Regions from separate parts of the Homo sapiens genome. Here region 1 is linked to region 2. The links come from fine-mapping of genetic effects on gene expression. Tissue or cell type: whole blood. Region 2 holds a variant in brackets; the other region holds the start of a gene. All regions are shown on one strand. Distances are between the middles of the regions.

Evidence for each region. PIP is the estimated chance that this variant, and not a neighbour inherited with it, causes the effect.
Region 1: LCP1 starts here. The variant in region 2 is fine-mapped to the expression of LCP1 in whole blood (TOPMed, PIP 0.92).

Annotation. Positions count from the first base shown.
Region 1 is chr13:46,179,009-46,187,119 of GRCh38, reverse strand. It overlaps LCP1 (lymphocyte cytosolic protein 1), which reads left to right and starts at 4,943. Exons shown (of 16, transcript NM_002298.5): 1 at 4,943-5,009. RefSeq lists an enhancer at 4,851-5,280.
Region 2 is chr13:46,255,321-46,263,431 of GRCh38, reverse strand. It overlaps LRRC63 (leucine rich repeat containing 63), which reads right to left. Exons shown (of 10, transcript NM_001282460.2): 8 at 1,440-1,523. Among named protein-coding and RNA genes, the nearest start is that of LINC00563, 38 kb to the left of the region's middle. The variant T/C (reference allele first, on the strand shown) is at 3,090.

The DNA of each region.
Region 1 (8,111 bases), 76 kb after region 2:
GAGAGGGTCAAATATTTATCTCTCAAGTAGGAAGGAAAAAATATATGAACATATATATACATATACATAAATATATGTAGGTATCTGAACCCAATCAAGATACACCATAAGCATAACATCTAGAAATATGTAATAAAATAACAGAAGAATTAGCTAAAACTGTTCAAAATACTTGGTTCTAGGGAATGGGAATCAGAGGTGAAGGAGTGTGTCGGGAGACTGGTGTTTCATGAGAAGCCTTGAGGTAATATTTGACTTCTAAAACCAAATACATATATTACTTTGATTAATAAATTAAAGAAAACATATGTCCACACGCACAAAATGTACACAAATGTTAATTGCAGCATTTTTATAATATCAAATAGTAGGCAGCATCCAAATATCCATCAGCTGATGAGTAAATAAAATGTGATATATTCATACAGTGGAATAGCATTCTTCCATAAAAAGGAGTGAAGGTCAGGTGCAGTGGCTCATGTCTGTAATCCCAGCACTTTGGGAGGCCGAGGCAAGAGGATCACCTGAGCCCAGGAATTCGAGACCGGCCTGGCCAACATGACAAGACCCTGTCTCTATAGAAAAAAAAAAAATTTAAATATCCAGGTGTGATGGTGCGTGCCTGTAGACCCAGCTACTCAGGAAGCTGAGGCGGGAGGATGGCTTGAGCCTAGGAGTTCAAGGCCTCAGCAAGCTATAATCACACCACTGCACTTCAGCCTGGGCGACAGAGTGAGCCCCTATCTCAAAATAAATGAATAAATAATAAAATGAAGTAGTGACATGTTACAACATGGATGGACCTTGAAAACATGCTAAGTGAAAGAAGCTCGTCACAAAAGAGCATGTATTGTGTAATTCCCTTTATATGAAATGTCCCGAATAGGCAAATTTATAGAGAGAGAAAATAAACTAGTGGTTGGCTGTGGCTGGGAATTTGGGAGATGGGGGTGAATGGGGAGGAATCTCTAACAGGTACAGAGTTTCTTTTGGGGATGATGAAAATGTTCTGGAATTATATAGTGTAATTGTTGCACAACTCTGTTAAAATACAACAAACCACTGAATTGTATACTTTTTAAAGGTGAATTTTATGGTATGTAAATCATATTGCAATGAAGCCATTATTTTAAAAATTAAAGAAAAAAATTAACAATCATACCTAATTCATAGAGTTGTTGTGAGGAATAAATGAAATAATGGATGTTAGGGGTCTAGTCCAGAGCCTGACGTAAATATTAAGCGATTAGTTAACACGTACATAGGATATACTACGTGCCAGGCACTCTTCTAAGTTCTTTACATATATCAATTCACTTACCCCTTGCAACAACTGTCTAAAATAGACACTGTTCTTACCCCCATTTTATAGACTAGGAAACTGAGGCCAGTGCAAGTAACTAATTTGCCCAAGATCACACAGCTAGTACAACAGTAGAGCTGGAACTTGACCCCAGCCAGCTGGCCCAGCATCTTTACTCTTCACCACTTTGATGCTCCCTCTCTCTGCCTCCCAGGTCCCATGTCTGGGTTAGTGCTGTGTGCTCCTAGGGACGCTGCTTTTCGTCTGTTGTGCTTCCAAGTAGATAACTCTTCACTTGCCTTTTTTCCTTGTCTGTGTCTTCAACTACAGTGGACATTCTACAATGGCAAGGACTGTACCCATCTTAATTCATCTTCATTCCCTGCCCATGATATGTTGGGATGAGGGTGGGCTGCAGAGTGAAGCAAAGGTGTTTTTCTCTTCATACAAATCCCATGAGTGCATGGAGAGGAAGTGGGGAGAGCTGAAGATGCTAGCATTAAGATGCTAGAGAAACACGAGACAATTGATGGAGCAAGATATCTAAGGAAGTAGAATATTAAGAGTGAGATAGTGTTGAAACACTGACCTTGGGAAGAAAGAAGAATGCCGCTTCCATTAAGACTGAAAGAGAGGAGGAAGAGGTGGATATTGTGGAAGTAGAGAGGAAGCTCATACCAGACGACTTGGATCATCTCAGTCAAGAAGGGGCAACAGAAGAATCTTGGGCCAGGACAAAGCATAGGAGGGTGAAGTGGAAGGTTGAGGCAAGAGGAGAGAGTTTAGAATAAATACCCAACTTTTTGGGGTCTGTGATCTCTTTACTAATACAATGGACCCTTCTCCCAGAAAAAAAGTACATACACACAAAATTGTGCATTTAGTTTTAGGGGTCTATGGACTCCAGGTTGAGAATGCCTGTTCTCAAGACTTAGTAAAATTGAATAGAAGTATTTCTGAAAGTAATTTGAAGTCAAGCATCTTGACTTTTTAGCATTCCAAGTTTGTGTTTCTGTGACTTTCCTCAGCAATATTTAGAGGCCTGAGAGTAGCAGGTGATCTGATATCTGGGACTGAGGCCAGAGGCTTCAGGGCAGGAGAGGGTGGGATGAAGTCTGAGAGGGTGGTAGGGCTTAGAGGAAGGCAAAACCCAGGCCAGGAACAGGTGGCAGTGGAGGCTCATAGAGGGTGGGCTGAGAAAGGTCCACTCCGGCTTCAGGCCATAAGGGGGCGCACTGTCTGTACAGAACATAAAAACGTAAGAAAACCAAAAGTCAGTCTTCTGTTTACTAGTACTATGCTGCACAAGCAATTTAAAACACCAACAGCAAAAAAATACACTTCTCTGAAAAAGTCTTGGTCTAGGACCTAAACAATTGCCTGAAACTGGGTAGACTTACACCAATGAGAGGCAGATAAAGAGATTAAGATTGAGGGAGTAGGGCAGGGCTTGCAATGGTGCCGGCCAGGATGTGGCTGAGGGGGTGTGGGTGCCTGCCGTGGATGCTAGGGTAGAAGACGACTCTATTAACTGGGTGGCTGTAAGCAGTACCCAGGTCAATGCCTTTCATCTTCTACAACCTCGACGTTGCCTGGAATCCTAAATCTTTTTCTTCACTTAACAAACATCACCTCTGCTCAAATCTGCAACTGCTTTGATATCACACTGCCTTTTTCACCCCTCTATTATAGATGGCATTTATTTACTTACATGTTTTTTCCCCACTAGACTATACTCCTTGAGAACAGCGATTGTGTCTTATTTATTTCTGAATCACCAATTCAGACAGGCATGCAAACACTTGCTGAACCAATGCACAAATATATTTTGCTCTTCTTCATAGATTCCTCCGGCCTCAGATGACCAGGCACCACTAGATACAGAACACTGTGCTTTCCTTCTCCAAGGTAAAGGAATAAATATCTGTTCCCCTTCATGAAGTGTTACTGTTGGGCCTTTATGCCATCCTGAAGCCACCAGGATGTGGAACCAGATCAGGGAGGTCCACAGTTACAACCCCTTGTATCTGTAACACCAGCAGGACATTATCTACAGAGTCCTGCTGCAGGGCCCCGAATGAAGACAGCATTTTGCTGCTTTGTAGCGTGAGCAGTGCTGTAACAGTGATGCATGGATGTTCCTCTGGTGTCCTGAAAGAATGTAGGTGCTTCTTGAAAGCTCTCTGCAACTTATTAATTGGGAGTGATTATGCGATGGAGAAAACAGAGTCCCATCACCCCCTCAGTCTTCCCTGGGAAATCACAAGAGGGCTGATAGCTCTCTGTGAGGTGAACCGTTTCTAGAATCCCCACCGTCTCGTCCTGTTCTTCCGCCCACCCAGTTCCTCAAGATAGCCCCTGTGGGCTTCTGATGAAGTCACCACACCACTGGCTAATGAAGTAGATAAACCAGAACAGTTTGGTTTAACATTTAAGGTCAGAAACAGGAACTTTCTAGAGGAGAAATCAAAAAAGCAAAAGAAGTATAAGGGCAGCCCTCCAACCAGTCAGAATACCGTGACCACCTGAGAGGCCCGTGGCCCAGCGGACACGGACGCATGTCAACTCTGGAGCAGATATCTTCAGCGCAGCATCTGACCTGGGAGTACAGCCACATACCCTCATTCCTAAACGGCAGATTGACTACTGGAGTCACACACAGTCTCCGGGCAATGTGGAGACATGTCTAATATTTAGTCAACATAACTCAGGGTGCCACAGTCTTCACAACTGTTGTGAGCACTTGAGGATGCTCCATTTGAAGATAGGAATTTGCCCTCAAGCATCTGGGGTTTGGGTACAGAACAGAGCTTCCCCTGCCACCACCTGCTAATTTTATAAAATGTGCATTCAAAAAAAAATCCTGCCTGTAAGAAGGAATTAAGCTACCCATTTAAATATAACAGCTGCCTGTGCAATCTACTGCTGCTCTTTATAGGAAACGCTTAAATAATTGAGATACTTAATTGGGTTAAAGAGATCCCTAGCACATAGATGTTCTATAAATAAAAGAATGAGTAAATAATCTAGTAACCTTCCTTTTCATGTCCTTCACTTAAAGAGATCGTTCTGTTTTGTTTGCACCAATAAGATCACTGTTAGAGGACTCCAGAGAGGTTTGATTTCAGGTGGGGTGGGGCTTTCCCAAGGAAGTCCCTTTTCATTTGTTTCAGGTGTACTGCCACCTTTTTCCCTGGCTCTTTCACTAAAAATGAAAAATTTGTTGATCTTTGCTGTAAGTAGGTAGGCATCTGGGCTTTGCTTTTGCAACTAGAGTCAAAGAAGTCAAGTTATCAGGCTGATCTTGCCTTGCTATCTAGAATCAGAAAGGTTTAAGTAGCCCAGGGACTACTCAAAGACAGCTGGAGGAGAAAGGGAGAGAGAAAAATGCTTATAAAGAGGTGGGCAAAAGAGCGGGACCTTGTCTCAAAAAAAAAAAAAAAAAAGAGGAAGTGGTAGGAGGTGTCTGAATTTCACTGTGACCTGTTCTGTCAGGTGATTTTTGGTGGGGCGGGGACATGAAAAAAAAGTTAAAATGTCCTTATAAAGACAAAATCTTTTTCTTTCCTGGCTGATGATTTGTCATTCTAGTCACTTCCTGCCTTGTGACCACACACCCAGGCTTGACAAAGCTGTTCTGCAGATCAGAAAGAAGGGGTTCCTGGTCATACACCAGTACTACCAAGGACAGCTTTTTTCCTGCAAGGTAAATGTTCTTCATGTGTTTTTGTTGGTTTTAAGCGCTTGTGATGCACTTCGGCACTGTTTCTGTGGATTGTGGGTTTTGCCTTCAGGGGACCAGAGATCTGAGCATGTCACCTGAGACCTCTGTGATTCCTGCCACTGTCTAACTGGCCAGGACATCTGCCGCCACCTCGCGTGGCCATCCAAGATGGAGCACCTCGGCTCTCTGGGCTGGGTTCTTCTCAACTTATCTGCAGTTATCACCCCTGCCCAAAATTAAGGTTTCTTTTTCCTTTTAAAACCAAACCATGTTCTGGTTTATTTCTATTGCTCTATTTCACGGAGGCTATTTACTGTGATTTTATCTTCTTTAAAATGTTTTCAGGAAAAGCGCGTATTGATAATTTAGATTGTATGGCTTATTGGCCCAATGGGGGTAGTTTAATTTTAGTTCCTGCGGTTCTGTTTTTCTAAAAAACTTCTTTACAGTACTTTAGTGGATAAATTATCTAGAGTCATATGTTACTGAATGTGATACTGGTTATTTGAGTGATTTTTGGCGCCAAGGGTTTTTAATGGGTGTGCTTTATAACCACATGGAATTAGAGGTTTTCTCTTTTCCATTTGTTCTCTAAAAATAAAAGCAATTTGTATAATGCTTAATTGTAGTGTTTTTGTAGGATTGTCTGAATTATTTGTTATGCTTATGACCATATCAATGAATATTCACTCAAATTCTGGGAGAAAGGCTTTTATCTACAATAGAAATTTTTACACAGTTGATATGGGATATTTATTTCAGAAACTGCCCAAACATAGACACTTTGGATTTTGTAGTATAAGCTTTTACTTAATTACCACTATCACATAACACTAAGAACCATTGACAAATGATAACTATAAAAGCCATTCAGACTGGAAATGCGAACATTAATCAGGATGTTTATCAAAACCGAACTTTTCTTTTACACAGCAACTTGTTTTCTAAAATTACTCTGTCAGAACTATCAGTAAGCAAATAAAGGTGGCTTATCCACACACATCTTGATTTTGAATTTACATACATTTGTCATAAGTTTGGTTTCTATTAAGTATAATTGTTTAAAGAATGTCTGTGTAGACAAATTTGAATAGAATTAATCATTTACCTATAAATGTGAATTTCTGGAAACTGCAAAATGTGACCACCAATGTTACTTTGCACATCTCACCTGAATAGTTTCAAACAAGCAAAAATGTGAAACTGAGATAAGAGGGACTTGAACCCCGTAAAAGAACAGACTAAAAATATGTTGTGTCTTATTTTAAGTAAAACTATTAATGAGAATAAAATAAATTCGAATGTGAAGGAATGTCAGTATTTTTCTTATATTTACGAAGGAATAAAAAAGAACTATGCGAAAGTTAATTCAAAATATAAAGGTCCCCTGTTTAAAGTTAAGTTTACATTGCTAAAGCATCAACCCCATATGTTACAAAGATATTCCTCTTCATTCTAGCTCACCCCCAGGAACATCAGGGGAAAAATCTTCTAGGTCTTGCCCTTTGAACAAGCACTGCTGTGGTGGGATGGAGTTGTGCCTAGGAGGACATTTCCTTAGCAATCCCAGAGACCCTTTTCTTTGTAGCATTTAAATTTTTGTCTCTTTTGTAAATTATGCCTTGAAACAATTGGTAATTTGGGAAACAATTTCAGTGCTTTAACTTCATTTATAATTCTATCTCTGAACCCTTTGGGGAAGGGAAGACCAACAAGTAAAGTCTCATTTACTTGTTGTTAAAGTACCATTTAACTTGGAGAGGACAGGAAATTAATAATAGCACTCAATAATTATGAGCACGTAGTGTAAGCAGCTACTCTTTATGCATTACCTCGTTTAATCCTCTCAGCTACCTTTAGAGATAAGGAATGGGCTAGATAATTGAAGGAACCGGCCATAGGTCACTGGGCAGTTGGGGTGGGGGGCAGTAGATGGCCAGGATTTCAGGCTCCTACTGACTGTGTGTGTTACAGATCCTCCCTTCCAGGCCAGCATATTTTTCTCAGAGGTAGGTGATTATAGACTTTTATTACTGAAGCTAGCTAACAAGATCTTGGCACTCACAGTTTTAAGAGAGAATAAAAGAGAGAGAGCAAGAGAAAGAAGAGAGAGAGAGAGAGAAGAAAAACTTTGTAATAAATTTACAAACATTTTTATTTTTATAAATAAGAGATACCATTGCAGGTTTTATATAATAATGGGCTGAAGAACTATTTTTAAATTAATGCATAATTTTACTAAAGAATTGTGTGCCTTTACAAACTTGCCTCGACCCACTTCCCCAATCTTATTTCTTGTCACTTCCTTCTGTTCAACCTCCCACTACCCCATCCCCTCCCCCGCCACTGCTAACCCACATTTTGGTGCACCAGACCACAAGCCACCAGAAAGTTCCATTCTCTTTCACCTTTTTTCACTGCAACTGTTTCTTTAATTGCATTCTTCTTTATTTTTAAAACTTCTGATCATTTTTCAAGGCGGACTTCAAGAAACATACCCTTTTGGAGGCCTTCCCATCTTCTCCCTGCCCCCACTAAATGTTTCTTTGGTGTGCATTTGCTCAATGCTTTGATCTTGGAGTAAGTATAACATTAATCACATTGTCTTAGTTTCAAGTACTTATTTGCTGACAGACCTGAGCTCCTTCTCCATCTTTCCTGGCACATGTAGATACTAAAGGCATTTATTGAATTGAAAATTTGTCACAAGTATTTTTTTTCTCAGCTTCTTACATACGCATGAAAGACTTTGATTGTACTTATTAACTTAATATTTACTGAGTTTCCATTTATTGCTATGAATGAAGATGCAACAATAATATAATATTTTGCATTCTACCATGTTTCAGCTTTACCGAAGCCCTAGTCTCATTTTAGCTTCAAAGTATCATATAGACATTGACCTCAAGAAATTTAAAAAATTGTACAATGACTAACAAACAGGGAAAATTACAATCTCATTTTTTTAGTATAAATACATTGGTTGGGCCAAAACTTAGCTACCCTTGCCAAAACTATATACCCAATAATGGGCCTCTTTGATGACAAAGAACACAAGGGCAGTTGTTAACTTTTACTTAGTCA
Region 2 (8,111 bases):
AAAAGAGGTGGTAGGATCACTTGAGGCTAGGAGTTTGAGACCAGCTTGGGCAACATAGTGAGACCCCCATCTCTACAAAATATAAAAAAATTAGCGAGGCATGCTGGTGTACACCTATAGTCCCAGCTATTCAGGAGGCTGAGGCAGGAGAATTGTGAGTCCAGGAGTTCAAGGCCGTAGTGAGCTATGATCATACCACTGCACTCCAGCCTGGGCGACAGAGTGAGATCCTGTCTCTAAAAATTAAAAATAAAATAAATTCAAAAATTTAAAAAGAGAACAAACAGCATCCTTAAAAAAATAGGTAGGAAAAGGGGAAAGTAAATAAATAATAAGTACAAAGTAAAATGAAAAGCAAAAATTAAATATGTTGGTCATAATAAATATGAACAGACTGAATTCTCCTACTAAAATATAGAGATTGTCACATAGGAAATTAAATAATTGATCTAAATATTTTAAAAGCAAAGGTAAAATTATCTCATTCTGCTAAATGGAAGATTACGTTCCTAGGAAACAAAATAAAATGTAGTAAAACTAAATCAGAACTAACAGAAGAACTTGGTTACACACATTAGTTTTAAGTTAATGTAAAGAAGTACATAGTTTTTCTCTATTCTGTACTGACAATAATTAGAAACAAGTGGAAATAAGAGAAATATTACATTACATTCATAGTAACAATCACAATCATAAAACACTTAGAAAAGGTTATTAAGAAAAATATGACGTGAGTCATAAATTCCTATGAAGAACATAAAACAAGATCTGAAAAAATGAAAAAAAAGTTTTAGAGTAGAAAAATTGATCAAAAATATAAATTCTCCCAAATTTATGAGTAAACTCTATGCAATTGCAATTAAAATTCTAACTCTGTGATTATGTGTGCTGCTGGATGTGCTAGAAATTATACAAAATGATCTGAAAGATTATGTTCTAAAGAGAATAGTTAAGAGACTATTACTGAAAAATAATCTCCCTACTAGTTATTAAAAATTATTCTGAAGTCACAATCAAAACAGTATAGTACTGACCTAGAAGGACATAGATAAACTTCAGACTTTTATTAATGTTAGAAAGAATTGAAGCTTTGCATTAAAATTATATTTTGTATTATTAGCATTTTGCGTAAATGTATTTCCTCACAAAAAATAAATGAAACATAATAAGAGCCACAGGTACACACACAGACAAATGGACATAAGTAGCTTATCGTTCTGTTAAGTAGTCATCTGCACTTTCTTTAAATAATTTCTGGAAATGTTATGTCTTAAAAATACTGTACACCAATCATTCAAATTACATGTTTGGTAAACTTTGTACTTCACAGATTACATTTTATGGCTATTAAATAAATGAAAGGATTGATTTTCTCTATCACAATCATTATTAAATATATAATTAAGGGGCATATAACTTTCTGTGTACTTCCAAAATACCTGAGTTTCTGAATTTCATTTGGAATAAAAGTAAGTTCATTATAGGAAACATCAAGTTCTTCAAGATAAGACAAGGAAAATAACCTTAAATAGAAAGAGAAAATTAATTGTAGAAATGATTATGTATCACCACTGGGAATAAATAAGTACTTGAGTAAGTAGGCAGGAGTATAGAAACCAGATTTCTAAGATCTTGAAATTTATATGGACTTCTTTTCATTATAGATCGTGTAATTACTATGAAAATTCCTAAGAATTACTCATCTATCCATTAAGACCAGTTTGAGATTTTTGGAGTGGACAAAGCCCTATTTAGAAAAATTTTCATTATCACTAAGATACTTTTTTGTTGTTGTTGTTGCATTAGTTTCCTAACAAATTACCATAATCTGGGTGGCTTAAAGTAACAGAAATGTATTTTCTCACAGTTCAGGGCGCCAGAAGTCGAAATGAAGGTATTAGCAGGGCTGGTTCCCTTCATAGGCTCTGAGGGAGAAACTGTCCCTTGCTTCTCCCCCAGCTTCCAGTGGTTGCCTGCCATCTTTGGCATTCCACGGCTTGTGGAAGCATAACTCCAACCTCTGCCTTTGTCTTCACATGCCTTTCTTATAGGGACAATAGCCATTGAATTTGGGGCTCACCCTTATCCAAGTTAGTATAAGTATGACCTTATATTAACTAACTGCATCTGCAAAGACGCTATCTCCAAATGAGGTCACATTCTGAGGTTCTATAAGGACATGAATTTCCGAGGGATGCTATTCAACCCACTACAATTGCATTAAGACTTTTCTAGTAAAATACCTTTAATCTTTCTTTCCATCAAGACAAGTACTTAAAGGTGAGAACCAAAGAATACAAACACTCTGCAAAAACATAGTTGTGCTGTCAGAAGCCCTGACTCCTAGGGGTTGGATGGAAGTGGGAATTGCTTCTTGAAGACTGGAATTGAAGGGCTCAGTATCATAGTCATCATAATCCCTAGTAAACACCCCCTTCTCTGTATGTGCTGTTCTCAAAGACTTTCTTGTTTTCCATGTAAATAAAAGGTGAGAAGTTATTTGTATGATTTTTAACTAAGGCATCATGAGCAGAATTTTTCGCCAACTTCTTACTGTCTTAACATGGCATATAAAGGTCCTCATGATCTGGTCCCATGCTACTTGTCCAGCTTGCCTCTCACAATCCCCCATATTCCTCTGTGGTCCAGCATTTATTTGCTAAAATTCCCTGAATTAACCAGTTATCACATATCTCTAAATAACACGTAAAATTTCCCCAAGCTTGACTCTGATCATTGTCTTTTCATTTTTTGTCTTGGCTCAGATGTCATCTCTTCCAACAAACTCTTCCCAAATCCTTCAGACTGGGTGAGATGCCTCTTCTGTACTTCTCTGCTTACTCTCTCATAGTACCCATCACATCGTGCAATAAACGTCTGCCTCCTAAAATTATGAGCTTCTAGAGGGCACGGATTCAATTTCATATTTCTATACATCCAGTGCCTTACATGCTGTCTAGTACATCGTAAGTGCTGAGTAAATCATAACTGAATGAAAGGAATGGTGACCCCAGTTAATTTAAAATAATTTGCTCTGAGAAGTTAATGAGACTGACTAGGAAAACAAAGGAAATGCCTATTCAATTCAG[T/C]GTTCATCTCTGACTTCTTATCATCTCTGTAAAGAAAATGTTAATACCATTTGCTCTATCTTTCAATTCAATATCATATCATTTTCTTGCCTCAGGCAGTTTCTGGAGTCATTCTATCTTCCCTATTACCTTGGCTCTGGCAACCTAGTTTGGTTCCAGGCTTTCACTATGGATGACATATTCCTGCTGATTGTGAGATGTAACAGGTGTAGGCAGCACTGAGGAAGCTGAATAGGTTCTAGAGTTGAAATTTATGTCATCTATATATGATTTTTACAGAGAAAATCTGTTCAGACAGCCTGTTTGGTCTGATACTCTATGTCCCACCAGTACCAAATCTATCACATTTTTTAGGATATGTAAAACTTTTTACATTTATTTCATTGCTTGATTTATTAGCAAATTATTGGCCAATGAGCTGCCTAAACTAGAGCCCTACTGTTAGCTTGCAAGATTAGACTAGCAATAATAATTTCATGTATTAACAGTGATGACCACCACACTGATATAAATATTTATTAAAAGCCTACTATATGGTAATTTAGAATGATCTTTTAACATACCAGTGTAGGATTGTTTTTTACAGGTTAAAAAAATGGAAGCTATAAGAGGTTAAGCAATGTATCCAATTTGGTATGAAATAAAATGTAGCTATCCCTTTTCATCAGATATGTGGAGGCAAGGTAATTTAATCCCCTTCTTTAATAAATAACAATATGGGAAAATAAATGTGTACAATTTCAGATCTGCTGTTAAGACACGGCTTTCAAATAGGCTGTTCGGTTCTTTTTGTTCCAAATAGTTTCTCTTTCCCGAAGAACCTACCTGCCAATTAAAGTAAATTGAGTCAAACAAGTAAGGCAAAGATTTGACTCCCTCAGTTGAAGTAGCTATTTCCTATGTCATTTTTCTCCTGCTATCCACTGAGAAAAAGATAAAGACTTTTTGTTTTAACCTTTGTGACAGTTGTTTCTGCATAACCTCAGGGCATGAGTCTAAAACATGTCTCTGTCCTTCACCCCACCTCCCTTTTTCTCCCTTTTTTATCTTTTCTACAAAAGCTTTGGGAACAGGAAAAAAAAACATTTGGATTTTTGAAGTGATTTATTATCTTCATTTTATAAGAGAGTTGAAAAGACAAATCAAAGAGCTTTTCATAGTAATAAAGTTCTAAGCATAACATGGGAGTGTTGATCCACTGGCCACTAATAGGAGGCCCCTGTTCTTTCTCCCACAGAAGCTGAGCTTTCCTGCCTCCATGCTGCCTCACACAGTATGCCCTAAGTTGCTCAAAGCAAAACCTTAGGAACGAAAATGTAGGCCTCAGTAAATGTGTGCTTTACTCAAATAGAACTTTTTTCTTTATTAACTTCTAATTTGCCCTATATTGAAACAATCAATTGTTACATAATTTCAAAAATATTGCATATTTTATTTTATTTTAGAAATTTAGGTCAAGGAAAAGAGACTAATCTGTGAAAATAATTGAAAGGATTTTAAAAATAATTTACAAGATTTTTTTTTTTTTTTTTTTTGAGACAGAGTCTTGCTCTGTCACCAGGCTGGAGTGCAGTGGTGTGATCTTGGCTCACTGCAACCTGCAACTCCCCTGGTTCAAGCGATTCTCCTGCCTCAGCCTCCTGAGTAGCTGGGATTACAGGCACACGCCACCATGCCCAGCTAATTTTTGTATTTTTAGTAGAGATGGGGTTTCACCATGTTGGCCAGGATGGTCTCGATCTCCTGACCTCGTGATTCGCCCACCCCGGCCTCCCAAAGTGCTGGGATTACAGGCGTGAGCCACCATGCCCAGCCAATTTACAAGATTTTCTTACCTAATTTTTGTAACATCCTTGAAGACAAGTATAAGTTTTCTAAACTTTCAGATGGAAACTGAAGTTAAGAGTAGGTCAGGGCTGGGTGCGGGGGCTCACGCCTGTAATCCCAGCACTTTGGGAGGCCGAGGTGGGCAGATCACAAGGTCAGGAGTTCAAGACCAGCCTGGCCAATATGGTGAAACCCCGTCTCTACTAAAAATACAAAAAATTAGCCAGGCATGGTGGCGCATGCCTGTAATCCCAGCTACTTGGGAGGCTGAAGCAGGAGAATTGCTCGAACCTAGGAGGCAGAGGTTGTGGTGAGCCAAGATCGTGCCATTGCACTCCAGCCTGGGCAACAAGAACAAGACTCCGTCTCAAAAAAAAAAAAAAAAAAAAAAGAGTAGGTCACTGGCTTGCTAGAGTTTGTAGCATATATGGGACAGAACTTGCCTCTGAAAGTGTCTTGCTTTTTCTACTCTATCACTTTGAGTCTCATGAAACTAGAAAGATCTTGTTAGGAATGGAAAGATAACAGTGAAAGTACTCCATTACACTTTTAGTAAAACTTTGAGAAGGTACCAAAATAATATATCTGGGAAAAAAAATATATGCATATTTTAACATATGGAAACTATAAGAAAAAGACTAATAATGAAAAGAATTAAAAAGACAATCTTTTAAATACAATGCTTAGCCACCAAAATAAACAACCATTTTTCTATGTTAGATAATATCTAGAAAAAATATGTATCTTAATTTAAATCCTAACACTAGGGCTTCAAACAAATTGAGTAACCAATTGTTTTATTTAATAAAATACTGTTAAATTAGACTTGAACTGCTAAATTTACATCACAAACCCCCACTTTGTTCCAGTGTCCCTTTCTCAATAAGGCCTACCTTAGCTATCCCACTTAAAATCACACTCTCACTCCCTTTTACTGTTTGTTCTTTTTCATATCACTTATTACCTTCTCACATACTATATAATTTATTTATTACATATATTGACTGTCTCCTCCTGGGGGAATGTGATCCCACAAGAGTTGAAATCTTTGACTGGTTTTATTTTAGTTTGCTGTTACTGCCATTAACAAATTGCAACACAAACAGTGGCGTACAACAACTCAGATTTATTAATTATAGTTATATAGGTCAGAAGTCTGCAAAGGTCTCACTCTACTAAAATTAAGGCATCAGCAGGACTGCATTGCTATCTGGAGGCTCTAGGGAGAATCTGTTTTCTTACTCATGCAGGCTGTTGGCAGAATTCAGTTCTTTCCGGCTGTAGAACTGAGGCCCTTGTTTTCTTGTTGGCTGTATGCTGAAGGCCATTCCCAGGTTTTCAAGCTGCCTCATTCCTTGACTCATGGCTCCCTTCCTCCATCTTCAAAACCAACAAAAGCAAGTCAAGTCCTCAGGTGGTATCTCTCTGACAAATGCTTCTGCATCCCCCTTCCATTTTTAAGAGCTCATGTGATTTGATTGGGACCACTCAACTAATCCAGAATAATCTCCCTACTTTAAGATCAGCTGATTAGAACCCTTAATTTCATCTCCAAACTTAATTTCCCTTTGCCATGTAATATAACATATTCACATGTTCTGGTAGAATATGAACATCTTTGGGGACCATTATTCGCCCTATCACAGTTCATCCCTAAAGATTCACATCTATCCCACATGCAAAATACATTCACTTATCTCAATTTCCCGAAAGGTTAACCTTTACAGCATCAACTCAAAGTTCAACATCTCATCTAAATCTCAAAAGTCCCATATCTCATCATCTAAATTAGGTATAGGTGAGGCTCCAGATATAACCCATCCAGAAGCACAACTTTTCTCCATTTGTGGATCTATGAAATTAAAGAAACAAGTTATCTGCTCTCAAAATACAATGGTGAGACAGGCATAGGATAAGTTATAGATATTCTGGTTCAAAAGGGAGAAAATGAAAGGTAAACAGGAATTACCAATTCCAAGCAATTTTGAAATAGGACTGAGTAAACTTCATCTGGTTTCAAGGCCTGGGAATAATCAGCAGCAGCTCCCAGCTCTGCCACCTGCTTTCCAGTTTCTGCCCTCCTGGCTTCTGGCTCTGTCTTTTAGAATCACAGCTCCACCTTCGGTGCTCCTGGTTTCATCCTCCCCAGTTCCTGGCACCACCCTCTGAATCACCCTCCCTTTTTCATGAAAGTTGGCACATATATTCAGCTGTTTCCTGCCCATGGAATTTTGGAGATCTGACAGCCTTTTTTCATTTCATACTGTCTTTGTCCTTCTTAATACACTCTGGCAACATTTCTATTAGTATAAAATCTTCAAGAACCTAGTGGGTTTCCCATGTATATCATGGGTATTCATTCCATAAGACAAAAGACTTGTCCACAAATTTCGTTCCTAGTTAATCCCATTTCTATTTTTGACTTTGCTGAAATGGCTGAGGCCATGTGACATGAGGTCATCATTAAAAAGGAATGGAATACTGATATATACAACATGGGTGAATCCCCAAAATGTATGTTGAGTGAAAGATGTCACACTCAAAAAATCATTTGTTGTATCAATCAACTTTTATAATTTTCCAGAACAGGTGAAATAAGTCTATGATGTTAGAAGTCTGGGAATTGACTAGAAATGTACATGGGGACATTTCTAGGGTAAACTTTCTAGGATAATGGGAATACCCCATATCTTGTTTTGGATAGTAGTTATATGGGTGCGTATATTTGTTAAACACTTTAAATCAAATACCTAAGATTTGTGCATTTTATTGTATATAAATTATACCTAAAAATTTTAGAAAGAAGGAAGACTAGGAGGAAAGATGAAAGCATTGAGGTTACTAATAACTATATATATATATATATATATTTGAGGCAGGGTCTTACTCTGTTGCCCAAAGCTCACTGCAGCCTCAACTTCCCAGGCTCAAGTGATCCTCCCACCTTAGCCTCCTATGTAACTGGGACTACAAGTACATACCACTGTGCACAGCTAATTTTTCGTATTTTTTTGTAGAGATGGGGTTTTACCATGTTGCCCAGGCTCTATGTATTTTTTGTTATAGTAAAATATAGATAACATAAAATCTGCCATTTTAGCCATTGTTAAGTGTGCCATTCAGCAGCATTAATTACAATTACAGTATTATGCAACCACCAGCACTATATGTATTTCCAGAACTTTCCCATCATCC